2 separate regions of the Homo sapiens genome follow, and region 1 is linked to region 2. The links come from fine-mapping of genetic effects on gene expression. Tissue or cell type: fibroblasts. Region 2 holds a variant in brackets; the other region holds the start of a gene. All regions are shown on one strand. Distances are from middle to middle. Region 1 holds the start of HTR7 (5-hydroxytryptamine receptor 7). Region 2 overlaps RPP30 (ribonuclease P/MRP subunit p30).

What was found. PIP is the estimated chance that this variant, and not a neighbour inherited with it, causes the effect.
Region 1: it holds the start of HTR7, and the variant in region 2 is fine-mapped to the expression of HTR7 in fibroblasts (GTEx, PIP above 0.99).

Annotation. Positions count from the first base shown.
Region 1 is chr10:90,851,168-90,868,126 of GRCh38, reverse strand. HTR7 (5-hydroxytryptamine receptor 7) reads left to right here and starts at 10,088. Exons shown (of 4, transcript NM_019859.4): 1 at 10,088-10,994. The coding sequence starts at 10,456. RefSeq lists silencers at 10,051-10,420, 10,441-10,490.
Region 2 is chr10:90,899,086-90,916,044 of GRCh38, reverse strand. RPP30 (ribonuclease P/MRP subunit p30) reads right to left here. Exons shown (of 11, transcript NM_006413.5): 11 at 13,854-15,475. The coding sequence ends at 15,366. ANKRD1 (ankyrin repeat domain 1) reads left to right here. Exons shown (of 9, transcript NM_014391.3): 7 at 165-263; 8 at 404-502; 9 at 3,069-3,949. The coding sequence ends at 3,179. Among named protein-coding and RNA genes, the nearest start is that of ANKRD1, 14 kb to the left of the region's middle. The variant A/T (reference allele first, on the strand shown) is at 9,119.

The sequences.
Region 1 (16,959 bases), 48 kb after region 2:
TGAAACTCCGTCTCAAAAAAAAAAAAAAAGTACTGTATAATTATGATAAGCATTTTACATCAGTTATCTGATTTGATCCTTACAATAGCCAATGAGAGAGATATTGTTATTCCCATTATATCAAGGAGAAGTCCTGGGCTCAGATAGGATGGCTCTTGAGTCATTTCTTCTTCTGCGGGAAGCCTAGAAAAAGAGGATGGTTTTTCACATCCAACGCAATCATTGAGCCCTTCTCATCCTCCCAGAAGAGCTCTCTTTTCTGGGCTGTGTGTGGGCTTGGGTGTGTGCTTGATTAGTCTTTGGCCTTATCCTAAGTTTATTCCATTCACCCCTCCTGAGTGAACTGAAAAATGCTCCACCCAACCCCTGTCCTCTTGCAGCTTAAGGCCGAGGGGGAGCCAGGCAAGAAAACCATATTATAAAATGATTTAGCCAGATGTATTGGGAGCACAAAGCAGAGATTTATCTCCCAGATTGAGAGGGAAGTTTGGGAGATCTGAAGGGAAAAAATGGCAGTTTCCTTGAGGGAGTAATGCTTGAATTAAATTTTGACACATGGAAGTGGAAGAGGAACATACATGAGACAGAGATCTAGGGTGTTGAGGGTATATCCAGAGCTGGCACAAAGTAGGTGGTACTCAGCCAAAAGTAACTGATTGAATAAATGAACTCATGGCCTCTTGTTTGACTTTGTTCCCATATCAACAGAATTGTAGCACTGTTGGATGTATTATTTAATCACCTGGCCAGAAATTCACTGAACTGTGCACATGGTGCACTAGTGTGATACACCAGCAACTGAAACAGAACCATCCTCTGTGTCCCACATGGTGGGACACTTATAGGAGCTCTTGGGGAGACTAAAAGAAGATGCCTTAACTCCAGGCTGATATTACAGTTGCCCTATTCATCACATATCTGGAAGTTTGTGCAGTGAACCATCTGCCCAGCCTTTCCCAGAAGCCCTCATAAAGCAGACCAGAGGGGTTAATTGCTAAACCTAGAACTCTAGTGGCACTCCATAGGACATCACCAATCCAGGGAGCTGCTCACAGCTCACAGTGATTCCTTCCTCATCTTCTTACCTTCCCCCAGAAACTCTTGTTACTGACCTGATATCATAAAAATTTGTCCACTTTCTGTGCTGGGGTAATCTGCCCCTGCTTGCAATATTAGTTTTCTTTTGAAGTGCAGGTAAATGAAAGTGAAATTTTTTTACACTCATGTTTCTATTAAAAATTGGAAAATGAGACAGATGTAGGCTTGTATTTACAAAAATTTGCATAAGAACATGCTTGATTGTGAAAATAAAGAGTAGTCCTACCTCTTTAAGATGTAAAGTGTGCCTGATTTTTTAAAAAAAATACAATTTAAGGAGCCATTATGAAAGAAATCAAAGGAAGAATTATGACTGGTATAGGGAAAAGATGCATGATGATAGACTTAAATGTAAAGAAGAGGACTGAAATTTCAACAGGATTTTTGAAAAACAAATAGAATAAATGATGGTATTAGGATTCTCCAGAGAAAAAGAATCAACGTGTTTGTGTGTGTGTGTGTAGAGTGACAGCGAGAGAGAGATTTATTTTAAGGAATTAGCTCAAGTGATTATGGAGGCTGACAAGTCCTAAGATCTGCAGTCAGCAAGCTGGAGATCCAGGGCAGCTGATGGTGTCATTCCGGTCTGAGTCTAAAGGCCCGAGAACCAGAATTGCTGATGGTGTAGTTCCAGGTAGGCTGGCTCAAGAAAGAGCTGACATTTCAATTTGAGTCCAAAGGCAGGGAAAAGCTGATGTTCCAGATCAAAGGCAGTCAGGCAAAGGAATCTTCCCTTTCTCAGGGGATAGTCAGCTTTCTGTTCAGGCCTTCAACTGATTGGATGAGGCCCACCCACATTAGGGAGGGCAATCTGCTTTTCTCAGTCTACCTATTCAAATGTCAATCTCCTCCAGAAACATGCTCACAGACACACCCAGAATAATGTTTGACCAAATATCTGTGCACCCCATGGCCCAGTCAAGTTGAAACATAAAATTAACTTTCACAGTGATGCTGTCTAGAAATGCTTACATATTAAGTGAAAAAAAAATTGCTCAGGCAACAAAAACTTTGTATCAAAGGCAAGTTTAAAAAGAAAGTTTATTGGAGGCAAAAGAAAGCACAAGTCCTAAACAGAAACTAACATTTACAAATGTAATATCTGTAGCTTTTACTGCTCAGTATGTTGTAAATATGGCTTAGAGCTTGCAAGACAAGTTATATGAAAAAACCTAAGTTATTTCTGGCATTTTTTCGTTGCAGCTGATAAGTGTATAGAAACCTAAAAGCTATTTGTGTTGGAGAGTATTTTGAAATGACTAAAAATTTTTTTTGGAAATGGCGCTTCAAAAAGGCACATTAGGAAGTAGCTTATTTTTGTGTATGGAGAAGAGGTTTTTTTTTTTTTGTTTTTTGTTTTTTTTAGAATTTTAAAGTACACTTTTCAGAATTGGTAACCATGGCTACGGATGGGACTCCAGTAGGGGTCAGTGTTACCATCAGACTTATGAAATATAAGCACGATGTAACAAGATTTTGTCAAGACACAGAATTTAAGCCAATTTATTGTACCATTAACAAGAAACCACTTTGAGCTCTAAATTTAAAAGCCATACCAATAATAGCTAAGGCACTAACCATGGCCCACACAGTTCATGCTCCAAATAGCTACAGTGGATGTTGAGAACTCAATTTTGAGCGGCTGAAAGAAATTTACTTATTAATGTCATCAAGGTTAAAATATCCATCTTGGCTCACCAGTGATGGCTGAATCAAAGATTTGGTTCTTGTGGTTGATGATATAACCCCTGCCCCTTAAAAAAATCATATAAGCAGATTTATTCATATATAACAAAATTACATCTTTGGGAAACTCATCTGGGTAGGAATGATCTAGCCCATTTTTTGCACTGAAACTGGTTTTCAGATATGAAAATTATGGACTAACCCTTTATTGCAGCACCAAATTGTGAAGTCGAAGACTATGATCCAAAAAAGACACTCTGATTTAAACCTTTAGACTTGATGATAATATTGCTTAATTTGCCTTTTTCAATTGCTACTGCTAGTGCGAATAAAAATTACAAAAGGAAGTTTTTGAACAGCAGTGCATTGTATTGAGAACTTAAAATGATAATATTGGAACACTAGAATTTTACAAATATCTTGCCAGTAATTAGTCTAAATTGGAGATTAGTAAACTATGGTCCATGGGTGAAATCCGGTTTGCCACCTGTTTTTGTATGCCTCGCAAGCTAAGAATCATTTTTAGATTTTTAAGTATTTGAAAAAACATTTAAATGTGTTATTGAACAATTAGTGTCAGTCAACAACTTATTTTAGAAAAATAATGTGACCCTTCTTGCGCAGAGTAAAACTCATACCTACCTTGCATGGCACACAGGTTTCTTTGTGATCTTCCCCAAAGGTCTACCCTTGCCATTTTCCACAGCTATGGCAAGTCTTCCATGTGTTTATGGACCCTGTCAGCGTTGCATTCTCCTTTCCTCAGTCTTCTAATGAACTTTCTACTCGAGCTGATATGTTAGCTCTGTGAATTTTTTGGTCTTTCCAAGCAGGGCTAATACCTCTTTCCTCTGGGCTCTCATACCTTTGGTTCATACCTATATTAGGAGACTTTCACATTGTACTGTAATTATTTACTCGTCTGTCTCTTCTACCAATGAACATCTGCAGAGCAGAGAACCTGCCTTATTTATTGACCCCAGCACTTAGCACAGTGCCTATTAATATGTAGCTAGGGCATGCTTATTGAATGACTAAAAGAATGGATCAGGCTGGGTGCAGTGGCTCACACTTGTAATCCCAACACTTTGGGAGGTCAAGGCAGGTGGATCACCTGAGGTCAGTGGTTCAAGACCAGCCTGGCCAACATGGCAAAACCCCATCTCTACTTAAAAATACAAAAATTAGCCAGGTGTGGTGGCAGGAGCCTGTAATCCCAGCATCTTGGGAGGCTGAGGCAGGGAGAGGTGCTTGAGCCCGGGAGGAAGAGTTTCAATGAGCCAAGATCGCACCACTGCACTCCAGCCTGGGCAATAGAGCGAGACTCCATCTCGAGAAAAAAAGTCGCAACAAATCAAATAAAATAATGGATTAGGCATAGTTTTTCCTAGAAATGGGATATGACTGTGATGGTAATTTTACTTTAAGATATCATTTTGTTGAATATAGAAGGATTCATAAAATTCTAAAGAAACTGTAGAATAAGATGTGTCCTATCACTTCTTCAATGAAAGCCTTACTTCTATTTTGATTATCTTGAAATACCACAAATCTCTCTAGATTTTGCCCCAATTACTGATTGCCCTTTTGAGTAAAACTACTCCAAAAGTTGTCCACCTTCTGAATTGCCATGTTCTGTCTTTTGATCTCTCGAATCCATTCCAATCTGTTTTACCCCTACCATTGCACTGAAACAGTTCTTGCCTTACTTTGCACTTAACTCAGTCAATTTCTACCCCCTTGAAACATTTTCTTTCCTTGACTTTAAATATCCAATTTCTCTTGGTTCTTCTCCTGCCTGACTGCCCCCTCATTCTCAGTCTTTGTTGGTTTCTTTTCCTCTCCAAGATCTCAGGATGTTGGTGCATCCCACGGTTAAATCCTCAGGACTCTTCTGTAACTACTTTTCCTCTTGGGAGATTTTCCCCTGAAATTGTATCTGCATAGCTGACATCTCCACTTGAATAATCCAATAGTATCTTAAACTTAATGTGTCCTTTTAAAACAGAGCTCCTAAAACAATATCTGGTTTGCATTAGACACTCATTAATTAATGTTGACTCAATGAATGATTGCTACTTTAATCTATTTTTTAATTGAGGAATTTAAATTTTCTTCTCATTAGAAATCTTTCAGGAAGGATTGGGAGCTGACAATGTCAAATGTGTTCATTGATAAAAACTTTCCATGAAAGTTGTCTCTGTGGAATTTGTGCTGCTGAATAGATTCCCCACTAGGGGGTATGCATGCACCACATACATTTCGAAAACAGTCCTGGTTAAGAAAAATTGAGTGATTAATAAAATAAATAAGGGCTCTTGGATGTAGCTGTTGTCTGATTTTTCATTTATCTTGTTTGGAGGAAACTTTTTAAAGGTTACCTTTATTTTGTAAAGAGAATGAAAATTTTCTAAATGGAAAGAATCAAAGAAAAAATGTTTTTATTTTTAGTATGTCTAAATTAAAACAAAACACAATTCACTTTTAGGCTGAAGAATTACTTTACAACATGAATGATTCTTGGTTATAGGCATTATTCTACACTCAGTTCAACTGACTAATGTTTATTGAACACCTAGTATATGGCAGGAGTAAGGAAATATCCCTCCCTTTGATAAGTTCACAGTCTAATGGGGAAGACAGTCATGGAAATATGAAGCATAATGCAACAGTAAGTACTATAATAAATATAATTTAAAAGTGCTTTAAAAGCCTACAAAGAATGAAATTAACTATGGCGAGGGGTGCTGTCACTGAGAAGGAGACATTCAGGTGTCCCAGACTAACTGCTTTTATCCTAACTGGGCCTCAAAAATGTCTGTGTTGATGGATTTGAGTCCCTGTCTCTAGCATGTGTGTTCTCTGTATTAGTGATCTGTAGCCCCAATAAAGGCCACAGGGTAGTATCTGGATATTTACTTACAATACTCTTAGTACTACACTGTCTAAGCATTCTAGTTTCCCTAGTCTTTTCTCACCCAATTCTGGGGGCAAGGGACACCCAGATAATTAGTCTAGTTGAGTGAGGAAATGGGGTACAAATGTGAGAGACTGAAAAATTTGGAGAAATGAAAGAGTGGCCCTGTGGAAGTCCGCTGCACTGGGCATGGGAGGCCATCAGACCCCCGATAGACATGATATCAGCATGCTTGACTGACTAGTGAGTTGCCAATGAACCCTATGGCTTAGGAAGCTTTTTTTGTGCTTCTTAAAGTACATCTAGGTTGTCAGGGTATGAAGGTTTATGGGAAAACAAACTATCCTAAGCTTATGTCCTGTGGAGGGATATGTGTGGGTTTTCATAGATGGGATTACGCATATGCATTTAGATGAGCTAGATGAGTACCTAGAGGGAAGAAGGGCTGATAAAAAGACAGTAACTATGATGTAGGACTCCACAGCTCTTCTGCACTCTCCGAGAGCAGTTCTTAGAGCAGGAGATTGCCAGATTGCCAGTTGGAAACCTCAGAAAGCTGTATTCTCAGGTGCCCTCACTGACAATCTTATGAGAATGCTATTGTAGGCAATGAGAGTCTAGATAAGAATTAGTACTTTTAAAAGCAGTAATTTTTTTAAATGCTAGGAATAAAAGGGACAGAAAATAAAGACATGATTTGATTTAGATGCCAACACTTTACTTACTGTCTCTGGTATAACTGTTGAAGAGTGGGTGGGCAGCGGGAGGGAAGAAGGAAGCAACACCTTGATATGGCTTTTAAACACCAGAAAACTAAGGGCAGAACAAACAACAAATTTAGATGAATATTTAGATATTTTATGAATATTTTGTGAAGCTATATCTTTGGCATTTCTTTGTGAGAAAATTACAGAAAAGTATACACTAGATTTTGGCATTTTTATGAGGACACAATTATTTGTTAGTGAAGGTTAAAGGGAAACTGAAAGAATTCCAGATTGCTCTGTCAGGATTTTGGAATAACACAATGATAGATGAAATTTAAACTCAACATAAGCAAAGTAATGCTGCAGAAGCCGAGATTTTCAATAACTATGTTTATGCATTGTGACAGCTTATAAATTAGAAACCTAGCAACTCTTAGGAAATACACTCAGCCATCACTAGGGATAATATAACAGAGGTGACTGTTCTATAAAAAAGGGAGCTTGGACTTGATGCTATATTGACAATGAAGGAGGTAGTAATTTAAAAAATAGTATTTTAATGATTATTTGCTGTATTTATATGTCACACAATTTAAAAGTTGTTATGGAATAAACATTTGTTTCCTCCAAAAAATTGGTATGTTGAAATCCTGCTCCCCATTGTGGTGGCATTAGGTGTGAGAGAGTATCTCATTGTGGTTTTGATTTGCATTTTCTCTGATGGTTAGGGATGATGAGCATTTTTTCATGTTTGCTGGCCACCTGTATGTCTTCTGTCGAGAAGTGTCTGTTCATGTCCTTTGCCCACTTTTTAATGGGGTTATTTGTTTCTTGCTTGTTCCTTCATTTAAGTTATAGATTCTGAACATTAGGACTTTGTCAGATGGGAGAGGGAGATGATTAAGTCATGAGGGCAGAACCCTCCTGAATGGGATTAGTACCCTCATAAAAGGGACCCCAGGCCAGGCTTGGTGGCTCATGCCTGTAATCTCAGCACTTTGGGAGGCTGAGGCAGGCGGATCACTTGAGGTTAAGAGTTTGAGGCCAGCCTGGCCAACATGGTGAAACCCGGTCCCTACTAAAAACAATACAAAAATTAGGCAGGTGTGGTGGCATGTGCCTGTAATCCCAGCTACTTGGGAAGCTGAGGCAGAAGAATCGCTTGAACCTGGGAGGTTGAGGTTGCAGTGAGCCGAGATCGCGCCACTGCACTCCAGCCTGGGTGACAGAGCAAGACCCTGTCTCAAAAAAAAAAAAAAAAAAAAAAAAAAAGAAAGAGAGACCCAGAGAGCTCTCCTACCCCCTTTGCCAGGTGAGGACACAGCAACATGGCTAAATTTACTGTTGCCTTGTTCTTGGTAAATGTTTGTTGTTAAGCCACCCAGGCTATGATATTTTTGTTATGGCATCCCAAAGGGACTAAAACAAGACAAAAGCAAAAACTAGAAGCTGTTGTGAAATATAAATGGGCTACGTGAGGGCTGTAAGAGTGTAGGTGGTAAATCATATTGACTAGAGGTTTAAATACAAATAAAATGATTAATTTTCAAAATCTGTGTGTAATTACTCTGGAATATTATTTGACAGAGCCAAGACAGAATATATAAGCTGAACTGATTAGGGTATTCAAGGGGAAGAATACAAAAGTCAAAATAAGTTAAAATGAGTTGAAAAGTTAAAATGAAAAAAATATCAAAAGTATCTTGGGGAATATACTACATGAAGGAATTTTTAAAAGACCTTAAGACAATTCCAAACCTCAAAATAAAAAAATGGAGACATTTCAATGCAGTCACATATGATCTTGGATAAGTTATAAAATTTCTCCCAGCCTCTATTTCCTCCTCTGCACTGAAGGGTGAACAAATGGTTTCTTAGATGCATTCCAGCAACAAACTATTTGTCTTTTGTCTGAGATTTCCTCTCTCCCAAGATCCCCAGTGGATGCCTAAAACCCCGGATAGTACCCAATCGTATATATACTATGTTTTTTTTTTTGATCTGGTAAGAGAGAGGGCTACTAAGTGACTAATGGTGGATGGCATATACAGTGTGGATATGTTGGACAAGGGATGATTCATATCCTGGGTAAGATAGAGATTTCATCACGCTACTCAGAATAGTGTGCAATTGACAACTTACACATTGTTTATTTCTGAAAATTTCCATTTAATATTTTCGGACCGTGGTTCACCACAGATAACAAACCAAGAAAAGCGAAACAGAGAATAACTAACATAAGTAAGGTTGAAGAAATTTCCTCATCCATCTTAACTGTTAGATAATATTGCTTTGTGGCCTAGGTATTATATTCAACTCTTCCTCTGACTCAATGGATTGGTTTGCTTATCCTAGGCAGAGAGGAGCCTCTGAAATGTTGATCACAGCAAAAGAGCTGTGAACATTAGGGCTTTTTTTTTTTTCCATTAAAACTTTTTCTGAATGTGTACAGGGAAGAATATGGGCATAGTAATCAGATAAACTTGGGTTTGAAACATAACTATTCCTTACCAGCTGATTGCAAGAGCTAACAACCTTCCCTATCTGGAAAAACAGAGCTAATACCCACCTTGAAGAATGAAAGTACTATTCAGCACTCTGATCAATATACTTTGAGGTTTTTATTCCTTTTCTTCTTATTTATAATCCGCTAGGGCCTAACAAGAAAAAACAGATTTGATTATTTTTAGAGTCTTAAACTACAGAAATCACTGCTGGCTTCCAATGAAACCTTCAAACAAAATGGAATGAAGCAAGTCTCACAAATAATAAAAATCAGCCGCTCTGACAGGGTTTGGATACCAAGGGGAATTTTAGCCAATAGGTATTAAATCAACATACACCTCCAGGATTCCTTTATAGAAGAGTATAACCGGTCATTTCTTTGCTTATGTGTAAGACTTCCAGAATGCTACGGGAAAATTAACTCTCTTTTCAATATATTAGGCTTTGAAGTCTAAATATAAAGGCAATCAGGGTCTATTTTCAGAGCGGAGAGGACTGTTTCTAGACATCCAGGAAGGATTAGTCCAAATGGGTGTAACCCCCTTGGAGGCCTTGTCCCCAGAGCATCCTCATCTCCTGGGTGCCAGGGGCTTAAGGAATCCCCCTCCCTCCTTTTTTTCTTTCTTCCTCTTCTCGGAGCTCCCACCCTCACCCCATTCGGCTGCTTCTTTTCCATCTTCGCTTCTTCCCATAAGCGGTCAAAATAGAAAACGGAAGTACCTATTTGTTGCTTAGTGTAGTGCTCAGAGACGTTTTTTTGGTTGTTGTTTAATTAAGAAAAATAAAATCCCCCTCTAGGTTCTTCATTTCGCAATGAGCCCAAACATCCGCTGGCTCATTAGGCCTCTTAACAAAAGAAAAATGCCCCCACTGAACTGTGGCTGACTAGTGTGCGGAGGCTGGGGTCGGCTGGAGGGGTTCTAAGTATCTATCATGCGGCAAGGACAGCTTCCCGGGCGAGGGGACCCGGGATCCCGGGAGGCGCGTGCAGCGCCGCCCCCTCACAGTAGGGAGGCGCGGGAGAGGCGGCGGTGCCTGCCCAGCCCGGGTATCCCGTCCCAGGAGCGCGAGGGAGCGGGCAGCGGCCGGAGGCGGCGGCGGCGGGGACGCGGCGCGGCTGCCGCAGGGGAGCGGCGGCGGCGGCGGCGGCGGCGGCGGGCGCGAGGGGCGGGGCGCACTCCGCAACTTCTGCCGCTGCCGCCCGGGCGCTCTCGGCGCAGCCGAGCTGCTGCTGCGAACTGTGGAGCTGCCAGCGGAGCCCAGCCCGAGCTCCCTCGACTCCGCGCGTCCCAGGCGTCCGTCGGGGGCCGAAGCGCCTCCCGCAGGGAGTCCCCGTGAGGCCGCGCTGCCGCGTTACCCGCAGCGGCCGGGGGTCCGGGGAGTGCGGGGCTCCGAGACAGAGCCAGGCGCCCCCCAGCGGTCGGCGCGGGCCCCATGGCTGGGCCGGGCGGAGCGGAACCGGTGAGGTGAAGCCCCGGGGCCGGCAGCCGGAGGCGCGTGGCCGGGGCGCCGGCTCCATGGGCAGCGGCACACGGCGGCGCGATGATGGACGTTAACAGCAGCGGCCGCCCGGACCTCTACGGGCACCTCCGCTCTTTCCTTCTGCCAGAAGTGGGGCGCGGGCTGCCCGACTTGAGCCCCGACGGTGGCGCCGACCCGGTCGCGGGCTCCTGGGCGCCGCACCTGCTGAGCGAGGTGACAGCCAGCCCGGCGCCCACCTGGGACGCGCCCCCGGACAATGCCTCCGGCTGTGGGGAACAGATCAACTACGGCAGAGTCGAGAAAGTTGTGATCGGCTCCATCCTGACGCTCATCACGCTGCTGACGATCGCGGGCAACTGCCTGGTGGTGATCTCCGTGTGCTTCGTCAAGAAGCTCCGCCAGCCCTCCAACTACCTGATCGTGTCCCTGGCGCTGGCCGACCTCTCGGTGGCTGTGGCGGTCATGCCCTTCGTCAGCGTCACCGACCTCATCGGGGGCAAGTGGATCTTTGGACACTTTTTCTGTAATGTCTTCATCGCCATGGACGTCATGTGCTGCACGGCCTCGATCATGACCCTGTGCGTGATCAGCATTGACAGGTAAGGGCCGGACCGCCCCGTCCCAGGCTCCGGCTGGGGACCGGCTGGCAGCTCAGCCCCGCGCGCTCGCCTTTCCTGGGAGGATCAAGCTAGACTTCAAGGCGGGATGAAGGGCTGCGCTTAAAACACCGCTCCCCCCAATCCACCCTACACCAACCAAACTTCGGTTACGGCATAGCCTATGTACATCTTTAAAAGAAAAACCGGAAATGTTCTGGTTTACTGTAGTGACGAATTTAAGACCAAAGTTAAGAGTATTTTAAGCCTTAGCATTTCCACCAGCGGGTCCCTTGCCTTGGTTTTTGGAAGGAAGGGATTTGGTGCTCCCTGACTTGATCAAGCCTTGCTGTGAGCCTTAAAGAGTCATTAAAAAATAATAATAATAAGTCGGAGAAAAGCCACCTTGCTTACCCCATTGTGGGAGCTACTCCCTAGGCCAGTAAAAGGACCTTGGATGGTTCTAGAATTGGGGTTTGTATGTCTTACACATTGCATCTTTATGATGGTCAGTTCGGAATCGCATTCTTGCTTGTGGAAGTCTGGTTTCAATGTTTGGTAATGCTGTCTGTATCTTGCGAGCTTGCTGACTGGAGCCTTCCTCCAGGTCTGAATGGCTGGTTCTAGCCTTTCATCATAGCCCTTGGGAACCTTCTCTTGAGAACTCCCCCACTGGAGTAATTGAAACAGAGGCTGACCATCTGTCAGGGATGCTAGGGGAAAAATTCCTGCCTTGGGTGTCATATTGAACTAGGAGACCCACAGGGTTTCTTCAGGCTGTAAGGTTACAGGCTTTTGAAATGGAGCTAGTCTTTGACCCTTGAAATATTATGCAGTTGACAACTTGAAGTATGGTCTCAATCCTCTTTGGCCTAAAACAACTCTATTTCACTTGAAACTGAAATATGAGACCTTAATATTCACACTCAGAATTTTGCCGGTGTTTCAAGACTAGTATCCTGTTGTGTTTAATGATACAGAGAAATGGTTGCTTATTTTCTTAGTGGATCTATAGAACCTTTATATGTGTAGATCTTTCAGCCTAGGGGAAATAATTGATGCCTCCACACTTAAAATGACAGTGCCTCAAAGGATGGTCTAGCATGAAACTGAGATTTTCCTTTTTTTCTTCTTGAAAACACTGCTGTTTGTGGTTTGCTGGTACTTAAAATGTTCTGCTGTATGTATTTTTTGCTTGACCAGGGTTTATAATTACTAAATAAAGGAAATAATAGAAAAGGGAATATTTTCAAGAAGAAAAACACATTGTAGCTCCATTTAGCTAACAATTTAGGTTATTTTTCTTTAAATTGATTCTACCATTTTATATATCATGGTAGAAGCTGCTGACAGCAAACAAGGAATTACTTAAGAGCAGAGCATGAACTGCATATGTGAGAATATTAGCACCAAATTTGGCAGCTGAAGTTCTGAATTACAGTAGTTAAGAATGACAAAACATATGTATTTACAGTCTGACTGTGGCAACTGGAATTAGGAGAGTGCACTCAATACACATAGTAAGTGTATACATGAATTATAAGCACAGAAATCTGACTGCTCAGCCAACCAAAACAGAGCATCCTGCATGAATGGAGTCCTTTTAAATGGAACTTAGTGTAATAAAACAAATAACGGTTTATGCTGCAAGTACTGTATTTATAACCATTTTTTAAAATTTCACAGTTGATAAATGATACATAAATAATACCTTGTGCTAATTTGTCTCCTAAGACAGCCAGTGTTTCTCCTCTTCTGGGCTACATTGAGGTTTGGCTGAGATCACCTTGTGATTCCTATACATGAGCTAAAGGCATTCTCCACTCAGCGTGCATGTGTGACTTAGCATCGGCAGGCATGTCCTGAATACTGAGAAGACATTAATCCTTCTTGGCAAGAGCTTAAGATTTTGTTGTTAACTGTATTCTTATGATTGTCACAAATTGTGGTAACATAGGCATATAGATTCTCCTTTTACCTATGAGAATTGCCCCATTGGTGAATTCTGCTTAAAAATTATTTTAGAAGATCAGCATATCATTTCTTTAGAGAAAATGAAGAATTGATAAAATTGGAAGACACAGACTGATTTTCTTCCAAGAACACTGAGAACTAAAAATGAGAAAAAAGGAAAATATATTATTTCTGAAAAGCATGTTTTCTGCAATTCCGTTGTAGAATATGACAGATGATATTAAATGTGCTGTGAAAATATGTAAAAAAAAAATCTTCATTCCCTTGTTCATTCCCTCTTGAGTACCTAATATAGGTTACACTGTGCTTTGTGCAGCATAATCAAAGATTAATTACAATATTGTTGCTTTTGTGCTCATTACAGGCTTTTGTGTATTTGGAGAGTTTGGATATCTGTTGGGCATTTAGCCTGTCTAAAATGGAACCTTTCATTTTTCTTAACCACTCCCCATCACACCGGGATGCTTTTCTAATGTAATGCCATACTGTTTTTCACAGGCTTCAGAGCTCCCATCCCGTCTTTTTCAGAAAATGATTTGTATTCATTGAAAAAGTAGCAGCCATCAGATGAGAACTTTTATCTTTCCCCCACCAAACAATCTGATCTGTCCTGCATGTGTACCCTTCTTTTTACTTCTTTCCAGTTAAAAAGCAAAAAGACATTGTGAGCCAGCAAATACCAAACTACTTGGACTTTATATTCCATCTCCCCACCTTCTCAAGGTCTTTGTTCCTTTATTGTTTCTTCATGGATGGTCTTTTTTGTTGTTATTGTTTTGTTGTTTTTTTGGGGGGAGTGAGGTGGAGGGGGACAGAATCTCACTCTGTTACCCAGGCTGGAGTGCAGTGGTGCCATCTCTGCTCACTGCACCCTCCGCCTCCTGGGTTCAGGTGATTCTCGTGCCTGAGCCCCTGCAAATACCTAGGATTACAGGTGCACGCCACCACACCCGGCTAATTTTTGAATTTTAGTAGACACGGGGTTTTGCCATGTTGGCAAACTCATGACATCAACTGATCCGCCCACCTCGGCCTCCCAAAATGCTGGGATTACAGGCGTGAGCCACCAGGCCCAGCTTATTGATGGTCTTTCTTCAGCTTTTCCTTTCTACTGTGTCAAGTTTGGTTTTCTATCTTTTAAAACCCTTCTTTGGCCTCTGGCCTCACTTCTTCCTCCAGCCACGGCTCTGCTTCACAGTTAAGCTGCTCAAAGAATTGTATCCATAAGTTGTCTTTTCTTCCTTGCGCTTTAGATAGATGACTTTGATGCTCATCAGGTTTACTGCAATATTCTAATTGGCTTTCCTGGTTCCACTTCTGTCCAGCCCCGAGCTATTCCCTAAGAAGAAGCAAGAATGGTCTATTTAGAAACTTTTTAAAGTGAGATAATTTACATATAATGGCATGCACAGATCTTAAATATTCAATTTGTATGTTGACAAATATATATACCTATGTGACTAATGTTCTAATCAAGATATAGAATATCTTGTCATCCAAGAAAGTTCCCTTGTGCTAATTTAAGAATGATCTTTTAAAAATAGAAATCAAATTACCAGCCAGATGTGGTGACTCACAACTGTAATCCCAGCACTTTGGGAGGCTGAGGCTGGAGGATTGCTGGAGCCCTGGAGTTCAAGACCAGCCTGGGCAACACAGGGAGACTCCCATCTCTACGGAAAAAAAAAAAAGAAAAGAAAAGAAACAAAAAAGCCAGGCATGGTGGCAAATGCCTGTGTTCTCAATTACTTGGGAAGCTGAGGTGGGAGGATCACTTTGGCCCAGGAGGTTGAGGCTGCAGCGAGCCAAGATTACACCACTGCACTCTAGCCTGGGCAATAGAGTGAGGCACTGTCTTAAAAAAAAAAAAAAAAGAAAAAAAAAAGAAATCAAATTACTTTTTATGCATAGTTTTAAAACATGAAAAATAGTTTTACATATCATTTAGGGAAGCTTGTAGAAAGAGTAAAAGTATAAAATAGTGCAAGGGAGTGGTTGACGCCAAATTCAGGACAGTGATTTATCTCTGGTGGGGTGGGTGGTGGTGTAATCAGTAGTATATATATCACCTATATTGGTAATGTTTTGTTTCTTAATCTCGGTGGTGGATATAGACTTATTATCCTTTGTATAACTTTTTGTATGACTGAAATATTTGTTAAAACTTTTTGAAATTCATATAGAAAAGTATATGTATGTGCACAATTCTAAGGATGAAGCTTGATGAATTTCCACATCCATGTAAACAACTATATTAAGAAATAGAACACTGGCAACCTCCCAGAGGTCCCCTCCTCTCCTTTTCTAGTTTCTATTGCTTGCAAAGGGAACCATTGTCCTGACATTAGCATCATGCATTGGGGTTTTGCTTGGCTAGAACTTCATATAAATGGAATTGTATAGTATGTACTCTTTTGAATCTGGCTTCTATTTCTCAACATAATGTCTGTGAGAGTCATCTGTAGTTTTTAGCCTATCAGTGGTTCATTCATTTTTATTGATAAGTAGTATTCCGTTGTATAAATATACCATAATTTGCTTATCCATTCACCGTAGATGGACATTTGAGTTTTTTTCTAGTTTCTGGCTATCTCTAATAGTGCTGCTCTGAACATTTATTTATGTGCAAGTCATTTGTGGATATGTTTAAATTTATTTTGGGGAAATACAATCCTAGGTAATAAGGTACTTTGGAACATTTTAATTTTATCTATCCCCTCACACCTTTTATGTTATTATTGTCATTCATTTTAGGTCTACAGATTATTAAAACCCATTAGATATTATTTTTATTGTTGTAACAGTCCGTATTCATTCTTCTTTGCTTACATGTTTATCTTTTCCATTGTTCTTTGTTTTGTTCTGCATTACTACATTTTCATCTGAGATCATTTTCTTCTGCCCAGTTAGATGCCTATTAGCATTATTATTTTTTTAAATTAAAAACTTTTTTTTTTTTACTTCACATAAAGAGACAGTCTCGCTATGTTGCCCAGGCTGGTCTTGAACTCCCGGCCTCAAGTAATTCTCCCACCCTGGCCTCCCAAAGTGCTGAGATTACAGATATAAGCCATCATGCCCGGCCCAGCATTATTTTTTTACTGAATGTATTAGTCTGTTCTCATGCTGCTAATAAAGACGTACCCAAGACTGGGTAATTTATAAAGGAAAGAGGTTTAATTGACTCACAGTTCCACAAGGCTGGAGAGGCCTCACAATCATGGTGGAAGGTGAAGGGGAAGCAAGACATGTCTTTCATGGCAGCAGGCAAGAGAGAGCTTGTGCACGGGAACTCCCATTTATAAAACCATCAGATCTTGTGAGACTTATTCACTACCAGGAGAACGGTATGGGGGAAACCACCCCCATGATTCAGTTATCTCCACCTGGCTCTGCCCTTGACATGTGGGGATTATTACAATTCAAGGTGAGATTTGGTTGGGGACACAGCCAAACCATATTACTGAGGGTTTGCTAGTGACAAATCCTCTCAATTCTTACTTGTCTGAAAATGTCTTTGTTTCAGCTTCCTTCTTTTTTTTTTTTTTTTTTTTTTTGGGACGGAGTCTCACTCTGTCGCCCAGGCTGGAGTGCAGTGGTGTGATCTCAGCTCACTGCAAGCTCCGCCTCCTGGACTCACACCATTCTCCTGCCTTAGCCTCCAGAGTAGCTGGGAGTACAGGCGTCTGCCACCACGCCCTGCTAATTTTTGTATTTTTAGTAGAGACGGGGTTTCACCTTGTTAGCCAGGATGGTCTTGATCTCCTGACCTCATGATCCGCCCGCCTTGGCCTCCCAAAGTGCTGGGATTGCAGGTGTGAGCCAACGCACCCAGCCTCAGCTTCATTTTTGAATGATATTTTCACTGAGTATGGAATTTTATATTTCTAGTTTTTTTCCCCAGAACTTTAAAACATTGTTCCATTGTCTTCTGACTGCCATCATTTCTGTTGAAAAATCAGCCATTAGCCAACATTATTATCACTCCATGGAA
Region 2 (16,959 bases):
CACCCCTCCATCTCCTAACCTCGCCTCTCCATTAAAGTCATCTGGAGGCCCATGCTGTGTGCAGGCACCCTAGTGACCACTTCTCCCCCTCGCACATGTCTTGGGGTCTGGGACAGCCTCTGTCCTCATTCCTAGCGAATCAGCAGCGTTTTCCAATTTTCCAGTTGCTCAGCACAGCGCTGCATGTGGCGGTGAGGACTGGCCACTATGAGTGCGCGGAGCATCTTATCGCCTGTGAGGCAGACCTCAACGCCAAAGACAGAGTGAGTAGCTGGACACGCTCGGGTTTCCCAAAGCTTCATTGCTTTTGTATTTGGAATCACTCCCCCAAGCCTGGGTGCCCTTGCAGGACCCACTTCCTGGCCTCAGACCCACCTTGAACCTGTTGACTCTGCTTCTCTAGGAAGGAGATACCCCGTTGCATGATGCGGTGAGACTGAACCGCTATAAGATGATCCGACTCCTGATTATGTATGGCGCGGATCTCAACATCAAGAACTGTGTAAGTACTGGAAACAAGAAACACCGCTTGCAAGCTTTCCAATTTCCAGGAGCATTTCTTAAATAGGTGAAACGACTCCCACAATGGCAGTATTTGAGGGGTCTTCGATGGTCTAAATGCCCCTGCCCATTTCCCCAAGGACAGTGTTTATCTTGGCTAGGACCCAGTTCACATGGCCAGAGATGAGGGAAGTCATAGATACTGCTATGACCTCAGTGCCTGATACAGTGCATAGTAATTCTTTTACAATTTGGTCTTGGAAATGAAAGATAGTCAAAATTTGCTCATCCCCACAAACACCTAGAAGTCCAATCTGCTTTGGCCATTTCTGTCTGTGCAAGGGCTGAGGAAGTTAGAAATAAAGGCATCCACCATTTCCAAAATGTCCTAAAATTCCACAAGGGTCAGTGCAGCCAGTGAACTAAGGTTAATCAATATCCAATCTGAGTAATTCAGAAAGTCCCTTTCCTCCTTACAGCAATGTGAAATGTCACCATTTTCTTCCAGGGGTAGCTGTGCTTTTGCCTGTATTTTTTTTCAGATAATTTCTATCCATTCTCCACTTGGATTTGTCTTCACATCTCTCAAAATAATTTCCTATATTTAGGCCCTGAAAATTCTTGTATAAGTACATATTAATTTAACTTCATCTGTAAGCAGGGAACATAACCAACTTTTCCTCATGGTCTCAATTTCCAGACAAACACCATCTAATATAAGCTTAAAAAATATTGCCCAGAGGAACAGGTATAAATTTCTGAAGAAATAATTTTAAAGAAGCTTTTGAAGAATCACTTTACAAAAAAGAGTGGGGGGGGGGGGAGGGAAACTCAGTCATCATATAAATGCAAATAATTTTCTCCCCTTATTTGTGTTGCAAAGACTGAGAGGAATATCTTATCTTTTAAAACAAATCTGGCTTGGTGACAGGATCAAAGAATGGTGATAAATGAAGATTGCTTGGGATGGGAAAGTGTTAACAGTAGGGCTTCCTCAGTCTAGATATTGGAATTGATCCTATCTAATATTTTTTTAAACTATCAGAAAAAGAGCAGGTTAAATGAAATCTTGAAAGCTGCAGAAAATGTGAAGATTTTTTTTCAGGCAGTGAGACACTACCAGCAGAGACAAATAGCATACAGGTTTAGGGAGACTGTGTAAGTAGCCAGAAAAATCACAATATAAATTTCAATGGAGAGAAGTGCAAGGAATTTATGGAAGAGTAGCCCAAAATATACAAATACGGCTTAGGGTTCTGAATTATCAGTTAGATATTAGCATCAGGTTTATGGAACTATTAATGTCATTGACCCAATGGATTGATGTTTCCCCCAAAGATCAATAACCTATTGATGCCATCTTAAGGAGATTGGGAGCAGCATACAATATTTTCTCATTATCCAAAACTGTATATTCATGTCTACTGATGATTGTTCCTAGAGAAAGACACTACAGAGGTGGGGAAGTTCCAAAATGAAGGTTATAGGGCCACTAATTTAAATACCTACAGATCTCATAATCTGACTGCAGACTGACCTCACTGTGCCGGGCAGATGGCCTAAGTGACTTCAATGTGTGGCTGTCAGGGTCTGTGCACATAACTCTTTTAAAGGTGGCCCTTCCCCAACCCAGTCTATGTTGCTCTGTGGAACCATGGGTACCATGTTTTTAACTCTTCTGATTTTTTCATAGAAGTCACAAATCCAGCTCTTGGTTTCCAACTGTTGCCAATTCATACTAATCTTAAAAAAAATCTAAGTTCTGTTTGGGTCAAAACAAAACAGGTCTCTATTCTGGTTTGCATCTCAAAGCTGCCAATTTGCAGTCGCTGGGTTAAAAAGAAACTTCTCAATGAATAGAGATGGAAAAATTTTGGACTTCTCAGATCTATAGATGAGAATTGAGAGATGACATGGTTTTAATATTTTTAAATCTTGAGACACGTGCATAAGGGAAATCAAAATTTCGTCTCAAAAATTATTTGTTCACATGTGTCATTGCCATCAACTCCAAGAAAAATACATTTCCTGGGAGAGTCCATTGAAAATTCTGACAAGTTATGAAAAATCTGCTCCCAGGAACAGTAATAGTACCCAAGCAGTACCTAAGTCCTTAAGCCAAGTTATTGATGCAGCTCATTTACCATCATTTCTTATCAATCAAAGAACTATCATTCAAATGGATAGGCACTGATTCTTGGTCCAAGAGGCATGCTCCCACCTCCGGGAGTCCATTCCACAGGATACTGGAAGATGTATGGAGACATTTTATAAATTTCAAAATGACTTGAGGTGCTCTTGACACATAGTGTCTAGGGACAAGGGATTTTACCAATACCTGGGATGGTCCCACGTGAAAAAGATTTTTGCTCTAAAATGGCAAAAGCATCCCTCTGAGAAACAGTGAAGGACTGGTTTGAGTATAAACTGCAGATCACTCCTGGTGGAAACCATAAAACACTGTTATAACATATACCTAATCCTTACCTCATGAAACACACACAGAGAATGTGAATTTACAGATGTCACCCACCTGAAAGTCAACTTTCCTTATCTCATTTGATTAGGCTGGGAAGACGCCGATGGATCTGGTGCTACACTGGCAGAATGGAACCAAAGCAATATTCGACAGCCTCAGAGAGAACTCCTACAAGACCTCTCGCATAGCTACATTCTGAGGCAAACGACAGACTCTTAATCAGTAAATGTTCACTGGCATTTTGAAGGCATGGCCCAAGAGAAGAGACACTAGCCATAAAATCTAGTTTCTATTTATCAACGTGTTGTGAAGATGTACCTAATGAAGTTTTGAGAAAGCACAGGGTTATAGGTGTTTAAATTTCCTTTAGTGAAACTCTTATTTATTTTTATGTATTCCTGTTTATTTATTTACTGCCACGCTACTGATATTCAGACCTTCATGATCATCCATCTGGTGAGCAGAGCTTCATTTGTATATAACACTTTCAGAGCCTTCCCACCCATAGGTAGTTCTTAAACCAGGTGAAAGAGCAAAGTTCAAGTGCCTACTTATGTGTCATTCGCTCATGTAAGAGTTTTTAAGAGAGGGCTGATTATCACAGCCCTCTTTTCTCCTGAATTTTTAATGCAGAAGTTTGAATGAAGCAAGGGAAGGCATGTAGGGACAGGAAAGGAAACAATGGAAGGAAAGTGATTCTGTGAAAAGGACAGTGAAGCCAGCTATTTTACCCCCAGGCTGGATTTTTTTTTTTTTTTTTTTTTTTTTTTTTTACCGAGTACACAGAGTACCCAAGTGAAGAGAACGTCATGAGTGTAAGTGCAAATCAGTGGAAGGAGCGGCAAACTGGGACATGCAGAATTGAATTTGCTCAAAAAAGATGAAAGGAAATGCAAACTGTAAATGTATAAATGTATATTGTATTGTATGTACATTTTATATTCATAATAAAGGCAATCAAACTCTAAACCTCTAAGTCCTTCTATAAGTGTGGTGGAAATGTCCTATGTGAAAAAAAAAGCTATATAGGAGGGTTTTTTTTTTCCATTGTTTTCCAAGTTTTGCAGATTAGAAATGTCCCGTACAACAGCACTCCCAGTATTTAATATGTATACAGATCACCTGGGGATCTGGTTAAAATGCAGATTTCTGATTCAGCTGGTCTCAGGTGGGGCCTGAGATTCTGCTTTTCTGACAAGCTCCCAGGTGACAGGCCACGAAATGCCACCACCACACTGAGCAGCTAGGCCGAGAGCCATAAAGACACAAAGGAATTCTAGCGAGCTTTCAGTCCCAGTGGTGTGTAGAAAGAGACCCCTGGTGGTCAGAATGATTTCTGCATGGTAAACCCGCATTTCTTACGAAGTTCCCATTAAGGCTTAACTAGTGACTTTTTTAAATTTAAATTTTAAGTTCTGGGGTACATGTGCAGGATGTGCAGCGGTGTTACATAAACGTGTGCCATGGTGGTTTGCTGCACCTATCAACCCATCACTTAGGTATTAAGCCCAGCATGCATTAGCTATTTTTCGTAATGCTCTCCTTCCTCCCACCCCACCCCCTATACAGGTCCCAGTGTATTTTGTTCCCCTCCCTGTGTCCATGTGTTCTCATTGTTCAGCTCCCACCTATAAGTGAGAACATGCGGTGTTTGGTTTTCCGCTCCTGTGTTAATTTGCTGAGAATAATGGCCTCTAGCTGCATCCATGCCCCTGCCAAGGACATGATCTCATTCTTTTTATGGCTGCGTTGTATTCCATGGTGTATATCTACCATATTTTCTTTATCCAGTCTATTATTGATGGGCATTTGGGTTGGTTCCATGTCTTTGCAATTGTGAATAGTGCTGCAATGAACATATGCATGCATGTATCTTTGTAGTAGAATGATTTATATTCCTTTGGGTACATACCCAATAATGGGATTGCTAGGTCAAATGGTATTTCTGGTTCTAGATCTTTGAGGAATCACCACACCATTTTCCACAATGGATGAACTAATTTACATTCCCACCAACAGTGTAAAAGTGTTCCTATTTTTCTGCAACCTTGCCAGCATCTGTTATTTCTTGACTTTTTAAGTAACTGCCATTCAGACTCCATCCATCTGACAAAGCTCTAACATCCAGAATCTACAAGGAACTTAAATTTACAAGAAAAAACAACCCCATCAAAAAAGTGGGCAAAGCACACGAACAGACACTTCTCAAAAGAAGATATTCATGTGGCCAACAAACATCTGGAAAAGAAAGCTCAATATCACTGATCATTAGAAAAATGCAAATTAACTGGAGATTTAACAATTCTTGTGGACAGGGACTGGCAATGTCAAAGACTTCCCAGGAGAGAACACACAGGTCCATGATTTTTGACCTCCAGACCACCATAATAAAACTAATATCACAATAAAGTGAGTCACAATTTTTTTTGGTTTTCTAGTGCATACAAAAGTTATGTTTACATTATCCTGTGGTTTAATAATTGTGCTATAGCACGATGTCTAAAAAACACTGTACCTACCTTAACTTAAAAATACTTTATTGCTAAAAAAAATGCTAATGATCATCTGAGCCTTCAGTGAGTCATAATCGTTTTAATGGCGGAGGGTCTTCCCTCCATGTGGATGGCTGCTGACTGATGAGGGTGGTAGTTGATGAAGATTGGGATGGCTGTGTCAATTTATTGAAAGAAGACAACAATAAGCTTACCACATCAATTAACTCTTTCATAAAAGATTTATCTGTAGCATCTGATGCTATTTGATAGCATGTTACTATCAATAGAACATCTTTCAAAATTGGAGTACATCCTCGCAAACCCTGTTACTGCTTTATTAACTAAGTTGATGTAATATTCAAAATCCTTTTTTTGTCATTTCAACAATGTTTACAGCATCTTCACTAGGAGTAGATTCCATCTCAAGAAACCACTTCCTTTGCTCATCCATAGGAAGCAACTTCTCAGCTGTTCAAGTTTTATGACAAGATTGCAACAATTCAGTCACATGTTCAGGCTCCACTTTTAGTTTTCTTGCTATTTCCACCACATCAACAGTTACTTACTCCACCGAAGTCTTGAACCCCTCCAAGTCATTCACACAGGTTGGAATTAACTTCTTTCAAATTCCAGTTAATGATATTTTTACCTCCTCCAATGACCCACGAATGTTCTTAATGGCATCTAGCATGGTGAATCCTTTCCAGAAGGTTTTGAATTTATTTTGCCCAGATCCATCAAAGGAATCGTTATCTACGGCATATAGCCTTATGAAATGTGTTTCTTAATAAGACTTGATTCAAAATGACTCCTTGATCCATGGGCTACAGAATGGATGTTGTGTAAGCAGGTATGAGAATAACATTCATCTCCTTGTACATCCTCATCAGATGCACGTCTCCATCAGTCTTGGGTGACCAGGTGCATTTTCAATTAGCAGTAATGTTGTGAAAGGAATATTTTTTTTTCCTGAACAGTAGGTTTCAATGATGGGCTTAAAATATTCAATAAACTATGATGTAAAAAGATGTGCTATCATCAAGGATTTGTGGTACAATTTATAGAGCACAGGCAAAGTAGATTTAGCATAATTCTTAACAACCCTAGGATTTTCAGAATGGTCAATGAGCATTGGTTTCAACTTAAAATCACCAGCTAACAAGGGAGTCAAAGCTTTGAAGCTTTGAAGCCAGGCATTGACTTCTCCTCTCTAGCTATCAAAGTCCTACATGGCATCTTCCAATAGAAGGCTGTTTCATCTACATTGAAAATCTGTTGCTCAGTGTAGCCATGTTAATCAGTTATCTTAGCTAGATCTTCTGGATAACTCGCTGCAGCTTCTTTCTTCTATCAGCACTTGTGCTTCACCTTGCACTTTTATGTTACAGAGATGGCTTCTTTCCTCAAATCTTATGAACCAACTTCCGCTGCAGTTCTCCAACTGTTTTCAGCAGCTTCCTCACTTCTCAGCATTCATAGCATTGAAGAGTTAGGGCCTCTGGATTAGGCTTTGGATTAAGGCATTATTGTAACTGGTTTGGTGTTCTATCCAGACCACAAAAACTTTCTCCATTCAGCAATAGAGCTGTTTTGCTTTATCATTTGTGTGTTCACTGGAGAAGCACCTTTAATTTCCTTCAAGAACTTTTCCTTTGCATTCACAACTTGAGTGAGAGGCATAGTTTTCAGCCTATCTTGGCTTTCTACATGCCTTTCTCAATAAGCTTAATCATTCCTAGCTTTTGATTGAGAGAGATGTGTGGTTCTTCCTTTCACTTGAACACTTAGAGGCCATTGTAGGGTTATTAATTGGCCTAATTTCAATATTGTTTTGTTTCAAGGAATGGGGAGGCCTGAAGAGAGGGAAGGAAATGGGGAAAGCTGGTCGATGGAGGAGTCAGAACACACACAACATTCATGGATTAAGTTCACTGTCCGATATGAGTGCAATTTGTGGCTACCTAAAACAGTTATAATAGTAAAATCAAAGAACACTAACCAACAAAACACATATAATAATAATGAAAAAGTTTTTAATATTGTGAAAATTACCAAAATGTGACATGAGCGAGACAGGAAACAGGCACATGATGTTGAAAAAATGGCACCAATAGACTTGCTGGTTACAGAGGTGCCACAAATCTTCAACTTGTAAAAAATTCAGTATTTGCAAAGCACAATAAATTGAAGCACAATAAAAGGAGGTATGCCAGTAGTTCTTGGCCAGGTGCTAGGCCAGGTCCTAAGACCTGTGGTAAGAAAAAGAGATTGTCCATGACATGCCCTCCTGGAAGAGATGAATATTAAAGGAATAATGAGGAATAAATACATAGTCATGTGCCACAGAATGGTGTTTCGGCCAACAATGAACCACATATACAAAGGTGGTCCCATAAAAATAAAATGAAGCTGAAAAATTTCTATTGATAGCAACATCCTAGCTGTTGTAACATCATAGTACAGTGCATTACCTTTTCTATGTTTGTTTAGATACACAATATACTTACCACTGTGTTATAGTTGCCTACAGTATTCAGTACAGTGACATGTCGTACAAGTTTGAAGCCTAAGAGCAATAGGCTGTATTGCTCATATAGCCTAGGTGTTTAGTAGGCTGTATCATTTAGGTTTGTGTAAGTAACACTCTGTGATGTTCACACAACAAAACCGCCTAATGATGCACCTTTCAGAACGTATCCCTGTCGTTAAGTGAGGCAGTAAGTGCACAGTATCTGTCTGTTGTAAATACGATGAAGGAAACAATACAGAGTGTCTAAGATGATGAGGCTTCTATAAAGACTTCTTTGAGGTGGTAACCTTTAGGGTTTGTCTGAAAGGTAAACAGGAGTTATTCAAGAATCAAGTGTTCCAGGTAGCAGGAACACTGCTCTATGGAATACAGCAAGGATATGAGAAATGTTTGGCACTTGTGGAAATACATGAAAGCCAGTGAAGTCTGATGTAAAACACTAGCACCAAGAGACCCATTTTGGATAAGATCATATATGTTAACCTCTTAGATATGCCTCTAACTATCTGGGAGAGTGTATACGCATAGTCCATAACCAGAAGGTCTTCCAGTTATCTGGTCATAGACACATATAGAGTTGTGAGAATGGTTTGAAATATTTTTGTACCTTTTCTGTCTAGTACTAATCCAGGGAGTCCACCTCCCACAGGCATTGGGGATTTCATTGTTATCTCTCTGACTCCCAATCTTGTTTGTTGGCCCCTCTACCTTCCCCACAGGGGTCCTGGCTTAAGTTTGTCAGACTTTTAAGGCTCAGGGTCCTTCAATTTCTTCCAAGTGAAACATCTACAACACAGACATTTCTCTTGCCAGTGCTGATGTCTCATGTGGCATAACTTCAACGTGTTACCACCATGTGACCAACTTTTCTTTATGGTATCTGCCTCAAATCCACCTCCCCTAAAGAGCTGGGAGGGTACACGAGAGAAGAGAATAAAGAGTTAAAAAGTTTTATGTTGCCACATATAAATATTTGCACTAATAACTAGGTAGAGGGCATGAGAGACAATATGGAATAAATCCCATTAGAATTAAGACAACTCTTAGTTATTTCTGCTAATGGAAAAGATAAACACGTTGGGGGAAATTTTTAAGTTTTTAATCACATAGTCA[A/T]TTTTTTTATAAGGTTCTCTCCTTGCCTTCTCACTGACTCAACTCTTTGCCCACAATCTTTCATTTTGTGTTTGCTCTTCAGTGAAGGGCACACCACACTGGCCAATGGAGAGTCCTAGAAGTTGTTTTTGACCTTCTTTCCCTCATCCTTCTCTTTTAAACAACCAGGTCTTACCAAGTATACTACATAAGTAGTGCTGTGATCTGTCCATGTTTTCCAATCCTAGGTGCCTCTGCCCTAGTTCAGGTCACCATTACTTCTCATCTGGATCAAATAGCCCTCCTAGGCTCCTGGCCTCCAGGCTTGCTTACCTCCAGAATGTTTTTCAAGTTGCAGATAGAGGGATTTTTCTAAAATGCAATGCTGATCAACTCACTCTCCTCTTTCAACCCTTCGATGGCTTCACATTTCTCTCAGGATGAAATAAAAACTCCTAAAAATGTCTTATAAAATCCTTAAAATCTGGCTGCTGTTAACTCTTTATTCTTATCTCTCATAACCTTCCTAGCCAAACTCTAAATTTCAACTCAACTAAATTTTCAGTTCCTTAAAAAATCCAGGCACTTGCTTTACTGTTTTCACATACTGTGCCAGCTCCCTGGAAGACTCTTCTTCCCACTACAGCCCACTCCACGCCATCACATCACTTCTCATTCCTCCCCTTTGTTCTAGCTGTATTTCCTCCAGGAAGCCATCCTTGAGTCCTTAGATTCTATTAGTTCCCCCAAGGTGTCTTCCTGTTGTACTTTGCTTTTTCCCCATAACATCTGTCATACTTCCTTCCCCCTCCTCTTGAACACCCAATACTCATTATGCCAATACAGAAATGAGTAACAAAGGAAGCAACACATCACCAATAATCCTGGTTTCATGACATTCTGATTATTTCTGTGCACATTATGGGTATTGTGTATTTAGCTTTACAACTTCAACTGAACAACTTATTCTAGACATCTTTATAGACAGTATTCTTTTAATGTACAATGAATTATTTAATCCTGTTATTATTGGGTATTTAGGTTGTTTCCATTTTCACATTTAAGACATTGTTGCAGTGAATATCCTTATCCATCCACCCTTTATAATTAACCAGTTATTTCTGAAGAATAAATTGACATCAAAAGTATAAGACTTGCATCAAATTGTATCTCCCTCCACACCATCTTGAAAATACCCACTTTATAAATCTTTTTTTCTTTTAACTTTCAACCTGATCAGCCAGATATATTTGTGGTGATTTCCCCCTAAATGACTAGGAAAGTTCAGCATCTTCATGTTACTGGACATTTAAAAAAATCAACTTTATTTGTCCAATTTTCTAAGTCAGGTCTCCTGGAAGCAGCATTTCAAATTAGGATTCTTGTGTAAGTGACTTACTGAGAGTCCTCTATAAGGGAATGAGAAAAAACAGAACAGGGCAGAAGAGGCAAATATGTGGTTTCAGGAGAAATCCACACACAGCGTAATCCCATGGGGTGCTCAGGAGCATAAATTGTACCACCGAGGCCAGTGGGCCAGGCTGTAATGTCCTGCATCAGTCACTGGCCATGGGCCAACCTCAGAGGAGACAAAACTTCCCAGGTATCTTCAGGTAAAGTGACTCTCATCAGCCCAGGACAATCCTCTGGAAAAGGGTGAAGATAAGTCATTAGTACCCAACATCTGAAGCACTGGCAATATAGGTACACCACCCTGGGAATGGGGATCTCTATGGATGCTAACAGCATGTCATGTTGGGTATTTAAAAAAAAAAAATTCTTAAAAGCTAAGCATATGAAACCTTCCTGGAATATGTATTGTAAATGTACTTTCCTACTTGTTGTTATGTAGAGACAAATCAATCAAACTTTGTTTTCTGGCTTTGATGACCATGCTCGGCAGGTCTATTGCAATCCAAGATTATTATTTTTTTAATTAACTTACATTTTCCTCTAGTATTTTACAAGTTTGTTAAAAAATTTAAATCTTTAATCTACCTGGATTTACTATGGGTGTGTATTGGGTGTGAGATAGAGATTTGACTTAGTTTTTTCCTAAATGATAGCTGACACTTCAATATTTAAATTAATATAATGAAGTAATAAATAATAAAATAGTTGGTACTTTCTTTTTTTTAGACAGAGTCTCATTCTGTCGCCCAGACTGGAATGCAGTGGTGCGATCTCAGCTCAGTGCAACCTCTACCTCCCGGGTTCAAGCAATTTTCCTGCCTCAGCCTCCCGAGTAGCAGGGATTACAGTCATGGGCCACCATGCCTGGCTGATTTTGTATTTTTAGTAGAGACGGGGTTTTGCCATGTTGGCCAGGCTGGTCTTGAACTCCTGACCTCAAGTTATCCGCCCTCCTTGGCCTCCTGAAGGGCTGGGATTACAAGTGTAAGCCATGGCACCCGGCTGTAGTTGGTACATTTTATATGACAGGCCCTGTTCAAAGTAAGCCTTCCACAAATACTAACCTACTTAATCCTTGCAATAATGTGACAGGTAGGGAGAACAGATGAAGCGAGGCACAGAGAGGTTACATAATTTGCCCAAGGTCATAGCTAATGAGTACTAGCAAGTAGGGCTTTAAATGCATTTAGTTTTTCTTTCCCCTATGCACTTAACTGGTATGCTGTACTGCCTCTCCCAAATAGATAACCAATTATTTCAGTATCACTTACTGAACAATCAATCCATCATTTCTTCTTATATCTAAAGTATGATCTTGGACTTCCTGCTCTTTTCACTGTTCTGAATTTCTGCACCAATTAGTTTTAATTACAGTACTAGAGTTTTGTTATACTCTGTAATATTCAGCATTGTAAGTCCCTCCCATTAGGTTTTTTCCTGAAATTTCCAATTCTCATATTTACTCTTTCAGAATACCAAGTCCAAAGACCAAATACATAAACAAGAAAACAAAAAATACTTATAAGCATTTTGATTTTAAATTTTGTTAAATGCGTAATTTGGGGGAGAATTTGATTTACAATTTGTCTTATTCAAGAAAACAGAATGTCTCTTTCCATGTATTCTAGTCTTTATTTTCCCTTTATTCTCTTATTACTTTCATTAAGTTTTCTTTATAGAGGCCCTACACATTTCTTGGTAATTTATGTCTTTGTGAATAGTGTCATCTTTTAAAATTATTTAACAGGTTATTAATCAAAATCTGGTTTTTGTGTATTTATACAATTGGCCACTCTGCCAAACTTCATCTTGGTTTGGCAGAGGTATTGGCATCTTGTAGCAATTAAATTAGTGGTTCATTCTAACGAAAGTAAATATTAGAAGGAAACTTGCCTCTGCTATTCACTGGTGATCAGCCATCATGCCCTACTATCATGAACAATGGCATAAACATGTATGAATAGAAAGCACGCACAACTGCAAACACATACTACACAAATGTGTAGTAAATGGACGTAAGCTGAAAGGTACCTGTATTTCTACTTTTTTCCCATTTATTTCACGAGTTTTCCAAGACAGTCGTATCTGCAAATAATTTTACCTCCTTTCTATAACATGAAAATCTTACTGTATCTGGTGCAACTGTAGCTGGTACATCACTAATTCATAAATTAAGGTGGGACGTCGCAAAAAATTGAACATACATCCTGTTAAGCATTTTAAGCTTAAAATAGATAAATGTATACTTGGGTACCAACCTTTTAAAGAAGGGTCAAAGCCTGTTCTTGGGAGTATGATCTCTCTGATGAGAGATCAAAAGTTGTCTTTGTTGAATTCTAGTTCCTTTAAAGCAGAAAAGGAACTTGACATTAGTGAAGCAATCCAAGTGCAGAGTTTTTACTGATCACCCCCAAATTTGTTATCCTTCTCATATCTAATTTGACAGCAGTTCTTTGTAATGACTCTTTTCCAAACCTTTCCAAAGTGTTGACTTAGTTTTCCCGGGAATTTTTCATTTGCCCCCAATAGCTCATCAATTTTCATATTTAAAAAAATAATTTACATACAATGCTAAACACAGCTGCCTTAAACAGATTTGTGAATAAACACAGCTGACTTTTGGTGAACTTAAGCAGGGTGAAGGAAAAAAGCAAACTGGCACACAAGGAAGTGGCAGACTTTTGGTGTGTGGCCTCAGCAGCACCAGCCTCAGTTTTACAGAAGGAATGAGTAGGTTAATCCATCAAATTGGCCAAGCGGTAGTCAAAAATGCTTTTGGAGCCATCACATTTAATATACACAAAAAACAGACACATATGAACATATATATGTATGCATACAATATTATTCTACTTTAATTTTGCCATGGGTTTTTATTGTTGTCATTTTAAAAATCAGGAGTGGATTTAACTTTATTAAATGTCTTTCTGGCATCTATTAAAAATATTCTGATTTTTCTCTTTTGACCTATGAATATGATAAAGGATACTGCATTAAAAAGAACTGGAAGGCCGGGTATGGTGGCTCATGCCTGTGCCTGTAATCCCAGCACTTTGGGATGCTGAGGCGGACAGACTGCTTGAATCTGCCAGGAGTTTGAGACTAGCCTGGACATGGCAAAACCCCATCTCTACAAAAAAATACAAAAATTAGCTGGGATGTGGTGGTGCATGCTTCTGGTCCCACTTACTTGGGAGGCTGAGGTGGGAGGATGGCTTGAGCCCAAGAGGCAAAGGTTGCAGTGAGCCGAGATTGTGCCACTGCACTCCAGCCTGGGTGACAGAGTGAGACCCTGTCTCAAAAAGAAGAAGAAAAAAAGAATAAATTTCACCTGGTCATGATGCACTTTTAATGTTTTTTTAATCAATATTTTATTTAAACATTTGTATTCATTGGTGAGGTTATAAAGCTTTCTCTTTTTAAAACTGTATTTTCTCGGGCCGGGCGCAGTGGCTAACGCCTGTAATCCCAGCACTTTGGGAGGCCGAGGCGGGTGGAATATGAGGTCAGGAGATTGAGACCATCCTGGCTAACACGGTGAAACCCCGTCTCTGCTAAATACATGGCGAGCGCCTGTAGTCCCAGCTACTCAGGAGGCTGAGGCAGGAGAATGGCATGAACCCAGGAGGCGGAGCTTGCAGTGAGCAGAGATCGAGCCACTGCACTCCAGCCTGGGGGACAGAGCGAGACTGTCTCAAAAAAAAAAAAAAAAATTGTATTTTCTCCAACCCGCAGAACAGTTGTCTTTCTCTTGCTTAAAAAAATTTCTTATTCAGTTATACCTCTGGCTCTACTCCATTGTTTTAGAGCCCTTACATTAATATTGCATAAATGCATGTATTTGCATAAAAAGCTACTTCTACTTAACATGATCCCATTATAAAAATAAATTATTTCCAAAGTTGGTTCAGTCCGATGCTTTGCTATTTTTAATACAGCTATCAGGAAAATCAATATTAGCGTTTTAGGGGTTTCTAACTAAAAGTAAGGAATCCTATTTCAAAGACCTTACGTAGGCATGAAGCAGTGAAGGAAGAGACCAGATGTAATTTTACATGTGTATCCTCTCTCCTTCCACAAATTCTATAGCAATTTCTTAGAAAAAAATGCTGATTTGAATACATGAAAGAAGCTTAAAACAAGAGGAACTAAAGTCACTTCTTCAATATAAGTTTGAATATCTTCAAAATAACTACTATTTGAGTATGAACAAGAAACTTTCGAAAGAAGCTCTTAAAATATTCAAACATCTGGCTGCATGTGGTGGCTCATGTAATCCCAGCACTTTAGGAGGCCAAAGCGGGAGGATGGCTTGATCCTAGGAGTTTGAGACCAGCCTCAGCAACATAGTGAGACCATGTCTCTACAAGGGAAAAAAAAAAAAAAAAAAAAAATAGCCAGGTGTGGTAGTGCACACCTGTAGTTCCCGCTGCTTGAGAGGCTGAAGCGGGAGGATCACTTGAGCCCAGGATTGAGGTTGCAGTGAGCTGTGATTATGCCACTGTACTCCAGCCTGAGCAACAAAGACCCTATCTCAAAAACAAAATGAAACAAAAATACCTGAAACATTTTATTCAAGTATATTTGCTGTTGTTTATCACTTACACAAAGGAGAAATAACCAGTCTTTCTCTCTTAAAGTACATCTAAATTCATTAAGCTGGCAGCCTTTTAAAAAGATGCTTCACTAGGTTTCGTTTGTTGTTTTAATGGATTGCAAGTAAAACTGTTTTTATAGACTATTGATTTCTAGCTCCAAATGAAAACAGTAAATCACACAAAGGTTTTATTTTTGTTGTGGCTGATGAACTATAAAAGGGAAGAAGGGAGTGCTGACAGAGACTGGGGCATTCTTTTCAGCCCTCACACTTGGCTTTCTTGGAAGCTGGAAGACAATCTTCATCTCCTTCTGATGGCCGAGGTTTCTTCACTGTAGAGATAATTCCAAAAGCAGTTTTTCTAGTTTCTGTAAAACAAACAGGGAAACCACTGTGCTTGAAGTTAAGACATAATTTAAAATGAGGTGGTTTAACATATTACTTTGGCTTACAGCAATAGCAAATGATAAGCCATAATGAACTGCTATGGCTGCTAGTGCCATTTACCGTCATTATCTTTTTTTCCCAACAGACACAAATATCAGTATATTATTAACATCTAATTCATTCCTAAAGATTACCTCATGGGTAAAACTGCAGGACAGTGTTATCTCTAATGGTCTGTCCATGGCATCTTATGTAGCCAGAACCCAGTCACAGACATTGATGTAGCAGACACTTTATATATGGTAGACAGACAAATCAAGAGAGCAAACACAGCAATCAAGTGTATGGCTCCCATGTGGAGCACATGCTTGCCTCATTTTACAGCATGTACCCTATCTCTCTTATTAGAACATCAAGGTACCTCTGAAGAATCAATTGCATTATATTGCCAACACTCAACAATGGCCTGGTTATGCAAAATGTGTTCAGTAAATACTAGTTGAGTTAATGAATAAAATCACTCATAAATTTATTGATCTCTTTAACTGGTGACAATGAACAAAGAATAAATAGAAATTATTAAATGCTTAGATTAGGCTGGCAGCAGAGTTCAACTTAAATTTAACCAATTTTTCCTAGAAACCTACTAATAGGCTAGGCACTGTGTCCATACAGAGGGTATTAAGATTCCTAACAGACAGTGCTTTTCCCTATACTACATGCATGCGAGAAGCACAATAAGAGCAAATATAATAGGAATGGAGGCATCCACAAGAATTAACTGCCTGGTTAAAGCAATGAGGTATTATATAAAGGTGACACTACTCAGAATAGGGTAAACGGAGTAAGAAAAAGAGAAATATTCCTTTACAAAGGCATGGAGAGAAAGATAAGAAGAACCTAGGTAAAATAGTTTAGGGGACAATATGGCTGATGTGAAGTAGGAATACAAAAAAATTAGGAGAAAATAGAGTTTGGAAGGGTAACTTATGAAAGGCCATAGTGTCATGAAAACAGACCCAAACTCTGTCCTTAGAAATGGAAAGGGATTATGGAGAAAGAGAGAGATACCCATTAGCTACAAAGGTGGCAGAATCAAAAGAACTTGAACAGAAATTTAGCTATGAATTATTCCTTATTTCAAGTAATAAACGTAAAGTCAACCATAAAGTGTTAAGCATTATTTTCCCATTTATCAAGATTAACTTAGTAAATCTACTCTGCCAATTATTTTAAAACACTTTTATTTGTAAAAGGGATAAAACTGCTCTCAAGGTCATTAAAATGCCAACATAATAAGAACCTCAAAATAAAAACTGTCAATGATTTCCATTTCACCAAATGAAAAACGTCACACTTATAGCTATTAATTTATGTCACTGATTCTGTACCCATAGTCTAAAAATCAACTGAAATATAAACATTATGAAAATCAGCACTTTTTAACAAAATGCATTAATTTCTT